Regions from separate parts of the Homo sapiens genome. Here region 2 is reported to be linked to region 1. The links are microRNA targets in miRTarBase. Many come from high-throughput screens and were not tested one by one. Region 1 holds a microRNA gene; the other region holds the end of a gene's coding sequence.
Evidence for each region. Region 1 holds the annotated microRNA hsa-miR-203a-3p (GUGAAAUGUUUAGGACCACUAG, at 1,281-1,302, opposite strand). A microRNA usually pairs through its seed, bases 2 to 8, with sites in the 3' UTR of a target mRNA and lowers its output. Matches are read on the target gene's strand: a 7mer-m8 pairs with bases 2 to 8, a 7mer-A1 pairs with bases 2 to 7 and ends in A, and an 8mer does both.

Region 2: miRTarBase lists CLPTM1L as a target of hsa-miR-203a-3p. Seed matches in the 3' UTR shown: 7mer-m8 at 1,020-1,026 and 7mer-A1 at 1,055-1,061.

What each region holds. Positions count from the first base shown.
Region 1 is chr14:104,115,503-104,118,770 of GRCh38, reverse strand. It overlaps MIR203A (microRNA 203a), which reads right to left and starts at 1,366; the gene lies at 1,257-1,366. It overlaps MIR203B (microRNA 203b), which reads left to right and starts at 1,268; the gene lies at 1,268-1,353. It overlaps ASPG (asparaginase), which reads right to left. Exons shown (of 16, transcript NM_001080464.3): 16 at 3,189-3,268.
Region 2 is chr5:1,315,786-1,319,053 of GRCh38, reverse strand. CLPTM1L (CLPTM1 like) reads left to right here. Exons shown (of 17, transcript NM_030782.5): 17 at 601-1,302. The coding sequence ends at 685. Among named protein-coding and RNA genes, the nearest start is that of MIR4457, 8.0 kb to the right of the region's middle. RefSeq lists enhancers at 2,309-2,458, 2,749-3,138.

The DNA.
Region 1 (3,268 bases):
GCGGTGGTCAGCAGGCAGCAGCTGGGGAAGACACTCCAACCCCTCCGATGCCACAGACCCACTGGGCGCTCCCACGGCCCCAAGCTCTGAAGCCAGATCCTGAGAGGTGGCCACAATGGCATTTGCTGAGCAACAGAGGAGGCACTGGCCAGTGGTGGATGCTCTCCCGGGAACTCCACTCCCCCCACCTGGGTGGCCAGGGGACCTTGCTGTCCTGCTGCTGGCCCTCTTCTGGAACAGCCCTCCACAGTCACCTCCTGTCTCCTCACATCAACCCCCTATGTGTGCAGGTCGGGCTCAGAGAGGGCAGGTGACTGGCCCAAGGCCACCCTAGCAGGCCTCAAACCCAGGCCTGTCTGACCCATCTCCCAGGACTCCCCGCAGCTCTCTAAACACTGGGTGAGGAGGTGGGGACTGGAGGGGGACCCTCCACCCCAGAGGACACAGCAGGCCAGGCAGCACCAGGCAGAAGACCCCGGCCCCTGGCTGGAGGTGGGGACAGATTCGACCCTTTGCTGAGTCCCTCCCAGGGCCGCCCGGGGCTTCACACGCAGATTGACGCGCACACCTCTCCTGTGGGCGCTAGCTACCACGAGGTTCCAGGGAGGCTCCGGCGAAGGCACCTGTCATCATGGGCGCCGCTTCTCCTCTACCTGGGTGTAGTCTGCAAACTTCCTCCCCACCCCCAGTTCCTGTGCCTCGAGGTCCTTCACGAGTTTAGCGCGCACTCGTAGGAGCCGCGCAGCGCTCCCTAAGGCCTCAGTGAGTGGAGACGCTCCGGGGAGCCGGCAGCGGGAACCATCGGCCGCCCAGCAGGGTGCGGCTGCCGGCAGCCTGATGGGCAGCTCCCAGGAAGCCCAGGGCAAGGAGCGCTCCTCAACCCTACGGGCCCACCGCCAGTTCCTCGCTGGGAATTCCACGGAGTTTCGAGGTGCGGGCCCTCGGGGTGCAAGAGGGCGGCGGCGGCGTCTCCAGGCCGGCAGCGCGCCAGGAGCGTGGGCAACCCAGCGCGCCCCCACCCAGCGGTTCCCACAGCACAGCCCGGCCACGCCCGGCCACCTCCCAGCAGCACTTGGCTCTCCGGCCGAGGGTCTTCCCTGGCAGCAGGTGGAGCCAGCCAGGCCCTGGGGACTGCGGGGCGCGGCGCATGGGGCGGCCGACCTGGAGCGCGGAGCCGGTCCGTGGGCTCCCCTGGATTGGTCGCCGGCGCACCCCTGACTGTGACTCTGACTCCAGGCCGCGCGTGGGACGCTCCGTCGCTGTCGCCGCGCCCGCCGGGTCTAGTGGTCCTAAACATTTCACAATTGCGCTACAGAACTGTTGAACTGTTAAGAACCACTGGACCCAGCGCGCGAGTCCCCAACACCGTCGGTTCGCCGAGCTGCGGAGAGAGGAGCCCCCGACGCCCTTGGGACCGCCCGCGTCGCCTGCGGATCCCGGGGACCGGCCCCTGCGCCCAGATCCCCGCTGGTCGCGCACCCCCTGCCCTGCTGCAGCCACCCGGCCCCGACGCCGTACCGGACGCCTTAGACGCCCTCGCCTGGCGCTGGGGGATCCCAGCCGCCAAGCCCAGCCCCGCCGCGTCCTCGCTGGCCCCGGCGTCCCCTCGTCCCGCGGGCCCCGCGTGGCAGGGCGGCTGAGCTCCGAGCGGCGGTGGCCAGCGCGGCGGCGCCTTTTATGCGGCGCAGCCGCCCTTCCCGGCGCCGGAATGTGCCCGCGCCGCGCTGGCCCGACCGGTTTTTCCGGGCGGGGCGGCTCCCGGGCCCATAGGTCCCGCGACTGATCCTCCACGGCCCGGGGACCTGCTCCGCGCGCCCGCGCGGGGGTGGCCCTGACTCAGCGGCCGCCCCGCCCCATCCGGCGCCCCAGCCTCCAGCGCCTGGCCTGGGCGCACCTGGCCTCCCGGGTTCTGGGTCCCCGCCGGGCCACGCCCGAACCGTCTCGTCTGGGCCGGGGGTGCTCGGGCGCACGGAGGGCCCGGGGCTCCACCTTGGCCGGGTCGAGGCCCAGGGTGGCCGGAACAGGTGAGGACCAGCGCCCGACAGGAGCCCAGGGCCGCGCTAGCTCTCCGGTGGGTGTGGGGGCTGGGCTGGACACACCCACCCCAGCCCCTCTCACTTCAAAGGGAACTTCGTGGGAGGGGGAAGGGGAGGGGTAAAGAGAAAGTGAAACTGGAGGGAGGGAGGTTTCTGCTTCTCAGACCCTGAACCCCCACCCCGCAGCCCACAGGGGTAGCCCCGTACCTGCCTCCTCATTTCCCACGCGGGGGGAGGGACGCCCTACCCCCTCACGCAGCAAGGGCCTGAGCCTCGCTCCCCCCACTCACAGCCCAGCCCCGAACGTCCTGGCGCAGCTGGCCCTGCCGGTCCTACCCACTTAGTCACCTGGAGGTGTCCAGGCCTGACCAGTGGCGCCTCCCAGGGACTCTGCTTCAGCAGAACATGGCAGCTGAGGGGAGGGCTCAGGCTCTAGGAAATACCCTAGAGCCCCCTTCAGCACTTGCCCCAAGTCTGGAGCCATTAGTGTGTCTGTATGGGGTTGGGCAGCAGGGTGGTGACCATTCATTCCAGTGCAGGGCGGTGACACGCCATCCCACCACCCGCCCAGCCAGCCAGGAGCCAAGTGCTCAGGAGCCAAGGTGAGCCCCAGACCAGAACACAGCCACCAGATCTGAGGGACCCCCCAGACATTTCCACATGGGCCGCGTGTGGCTCAACCACCGCAGCCACCCTGGAAAGGGAATCAGAAAGGTTTTGTTATTTTCATTTTGCAGTTGGGGAAACTGAGGCTCAGGGAGGGACAGTGACTTCTGGGGATTGCACAGCTCTTGGTGGTAGAGAAGGGATGACAGGCCTTGCCATCGCTGCATCTGTGGGTCTCAGTGCCTGGGTGTGGAGTCCGAGGGGCTGCGGCATGGGGGTGGGGATGGAAGTGGGCATAGGGGAGCTTGAGATCAAGAACAGGAGCTTGGGAGCTCCTCCCCCAACACAACTGCATGGGCAAGAAGAACCCACCTCTCTTCTTTTCTTTTTTTTTTTCTTTTTTTTTGAGACCTAGTCTTGCTGTGTTGCCCAGGCTGGAGTGCAGTGGTGCGATCTTGGCTCGCTGCAACCTCCATCTTCCCAGTTCAAGCGATTCTCCCACCTCAGCCTCCCAAGTAGCTGGGACCACAGACACAAACCACCACACCTGGCTAATGTTTTTATTTATTTTTTAAGAGACAGAGTTTCGCCATGTTGGCTGTTCTCAAACTCCTAGGCTCAAGCTA
Region 2 (3,268 bases), not on the chromosome of region 1:
AATGGCTCCAGACCTGCAAACGGTGTTTGGCCAGGATCACAGGGCCCTTGGTGGGCAGCAGGTCTGTTTTTAAGCTGAAACCCTGTACTTCTGTTCGCGGCCGTGTAGAGCTGCCCCTTATGCCACAGCTTCCTCATCCATACGTAGGGGTGATGTTGGCAAGGCCTCCGGGGCGCTCAGGATCAAAGGCGGCGGCAGTGTCCTGCCAAGTGTTCACAGCTGATGAGACGTGGTCCCTGAACACAGCGGTTCCTGTTCTGATCACTCGAGTCTCCGTGATGCCACCGTTCCCAGAAGGCAGCCCGTGCAGCCTCCGGGTCCCCCCTTCAGCCATGGCAGCCCGTGCAGCCTCCGGGTCGTCCCTTCGGCCAAGCTTCCCTTTCCTTGAGAGCAGCACGCTGGCCTGGCCATGCAGAACAAAACACAACTCAGAAATCCCTCCTCAGCCCTCGGCAGTAAAACTTCTGAGGATTCGACTTTTTAGTTAATTTGCTCACTGTGGCAGCTCACTGGAAAATAAATCGAGGATGCCAAGTCCTCCTCTTAGAAAAATAGCCCCTGCAGTGGGGTTTGCTGATGTGCTCATTTGTGTCATTGCAGGCTTTATCCTGTGGATAAACGCAGAGTGAACGAGTTTGGGGAGTCCTACGAGGAGAAGGCCACGCGGGCGCCCCACACGGACTGAAGGCCGCCCGGGCTGCCGCCAGCCAAGTGCAACTTGAATTGTCAATGAGTATTTTTGGAAGCATTTGGAGGAATTCCTAGACATTGCGTTTTCTGTGTTGCCAAAATCCCTTCGGACATTTCTCAGACATCTCCCAAGTTCCCATCACGTCAGATTTGGAGCTGGTAGCGCTTACGATGCCCCCACGTGTGAACATCTGTCTTGGTCACAGAGCTGGGTGCTGCCGGTCACCTTGAGCTGTGGTGGCTCCCGGCACACGAGTGTCCGGGGTTCGGCCATGTCCTCACGCGGGCAGGGGTGGGAGCCCTCACAGGCAAGGGGGCTGTTGGATTTCCATTTCAGGTGGTTTTCTAAGTGCTCCTTATGTGAATTTCAAACACGTATGGAATTCATTCCGCATGGACTCTGGGATCAAAGGCTCTTTCCTCTTTTGTTTGAGAGTTGGTTGTTTTAAAGCTTAATGTATGTTTCTATTTTAAAATAAATTTTTCTGGCTGTGGCATTTTTCTTGACCTGGTATAATGAAAGTATTTCGGATATTTGAGTTTAACCCTTTTCCAGAAAGTAATACATGATATGGATTTATTTATGCATTAAAAGAGCAAATTTAAAGAGCCCTTTGCAAGCCTTTGAGTCATGAGTGTTCTTAGATACGTAGCATCTTAGTTGTTTAAGACTAAACTATTGTACAGAGCCATGACCCATCAGGTCAAGCTTATCTTGCCCTAGGTTGAGGCAGAGAGAGAGAAATGGAATAGAAAGATGGGTGGAGAACTGCTGGACTCGGTGTGTAGTGAAGTTTAATGTTTGTTGAAGTTAGTTTTTGTGGGGTTTGTTGTTCTCAGCTCACAGCAGCCTCCACCTCCCATGTTCACACAATCTTCTTGCCTCAGCCTCCTGAGTAGCTGCGACTACAAGTGTGCACCACCACATCCAGCTTTTTTGTATTAATATTTTTAGTAGAGATGTGGTTTTGCCATGTTGTCCAGGCTGGTCTCGAACTCCTGATCTCAAGTGATCACCCGCCTTGGCCTTTTGAAGTGCTGGGAGTACAGGCATGAGCCACCACACCTGGCCTCTAAATATATAATCTTTTTTTATTCCTGGTCATTTCCTTGCTCTAAGTCTCCTTTGCCAATAACAGCTTTCATCCTCTTGTGTTTCTGGAACAGGCTCCCCTCTCATGGGCCTGGCTTCCTTGCAGCTGAGGGGCTTTGGGAGCCCTGCTCAGAGCCCCAAGCCTGCAGGCCTGTTCCATGTGTCTCCACGTAAATGGACGAGACACACCATTCCAGGATGCTCATTCAGGCTGAGAACCAAATCCAGATGCTCTCAGTCCATTCGCAGATGACAGTGAAGTTTCTGTACACTCTGCTTTCTTCTGGATCAGATAAATCTTTTATAATTAAGGTGTTGTAAACTTCACTCGATTTGAGAGGAATGCACTGGGGCTTCAAGTTGTCATCTTTCAGTTTTATTCATTAAAATACGAAGATACCAGATGAGTTGGCACAGGAAAACAAATACGAATACACGGCCTGTACTGTGTTACTTAGTCGTGTGTTGTAAGTGGGGTCTGGAAGGGTGGCTGGGAGAGCGGGTGAACTGCCGGTTCCAGATGGGACGCACAGCACCTTAAGGGGCCTGGGGGGGCACACGGGAGGCGGCTCCAGAGGCAGGGCAGATAGTGGGGGCCCGCAGGCAAGTCAGCAGTGGGGGAAAGACAGCAGAAGGCGTGAGGGTCTTCATTGGTGTATGTGAAGGTCACGAGGTCACACGGCCCTGCCCATCACAGGTGCGTCGGTCTGCGGGGAAGTTGAGGCATCAGGGAACAGGAAGTTTTAAACGTTTACAATGGATCTTACCCACACAGGCCGTGCCTTTGCCTGCGGTGTCAGATTACTAGGGCGGGGTGCGGTGGAGGGTGTCCCTTCCACACCTGTGGTTTTATTTGTCTTTGGGGGAGGGGAGCCTTGCTTTATAAAACACAACTGGCTGTGTTCTGTAAGGCTTCACCCAGCACATCCTGTTGGCAGCAGCTAAGCACACAAACGGGAAAGGAGTATCGCCCAACTCCACCGATGAACTCAAAGTGCCTGGCTTTGCCTGGGGGATGCTGGCAAGGTTAGGTGCGGTTCCCAGCGTTTCTTCTGCCTCCTGGGGCACATCCCGCGGTGGGTCAGCGCCTGCGGCCGGCTGCTGCAGAAATAGCGTCATTCGGCCCCTGCATCAGCAGCCAAAGCCGGGCCTAACTGTCAGGAGCTCCGTGGATAGCTTTGCTGCTCTCGCTTTTCAGTTTCAGTATCAAAAATAGTTGCTACAAGAACTGATTTTTGTCATAGCACCTGCTCTTCCATTTGGGCTGGCGTGCTGAGCAAAGGTGGGTGCAGGCGCCTCATCAGCCTGACAGCAGAGTCAGCTTAACCTGAGTTTTCAGGAAGCACCGTGGCAGGCCCCCAAAAGGGGCAGATGTCCACCGTGCACTGCGTCTGCTTCTGCAGTCGGCCCTCCAGTGCCGTTTTCTTTCACCTGCAAAGGGCCTTAATGCGTGAACCAGCTGCTGGTGACTGTTAGTCTTGCTCT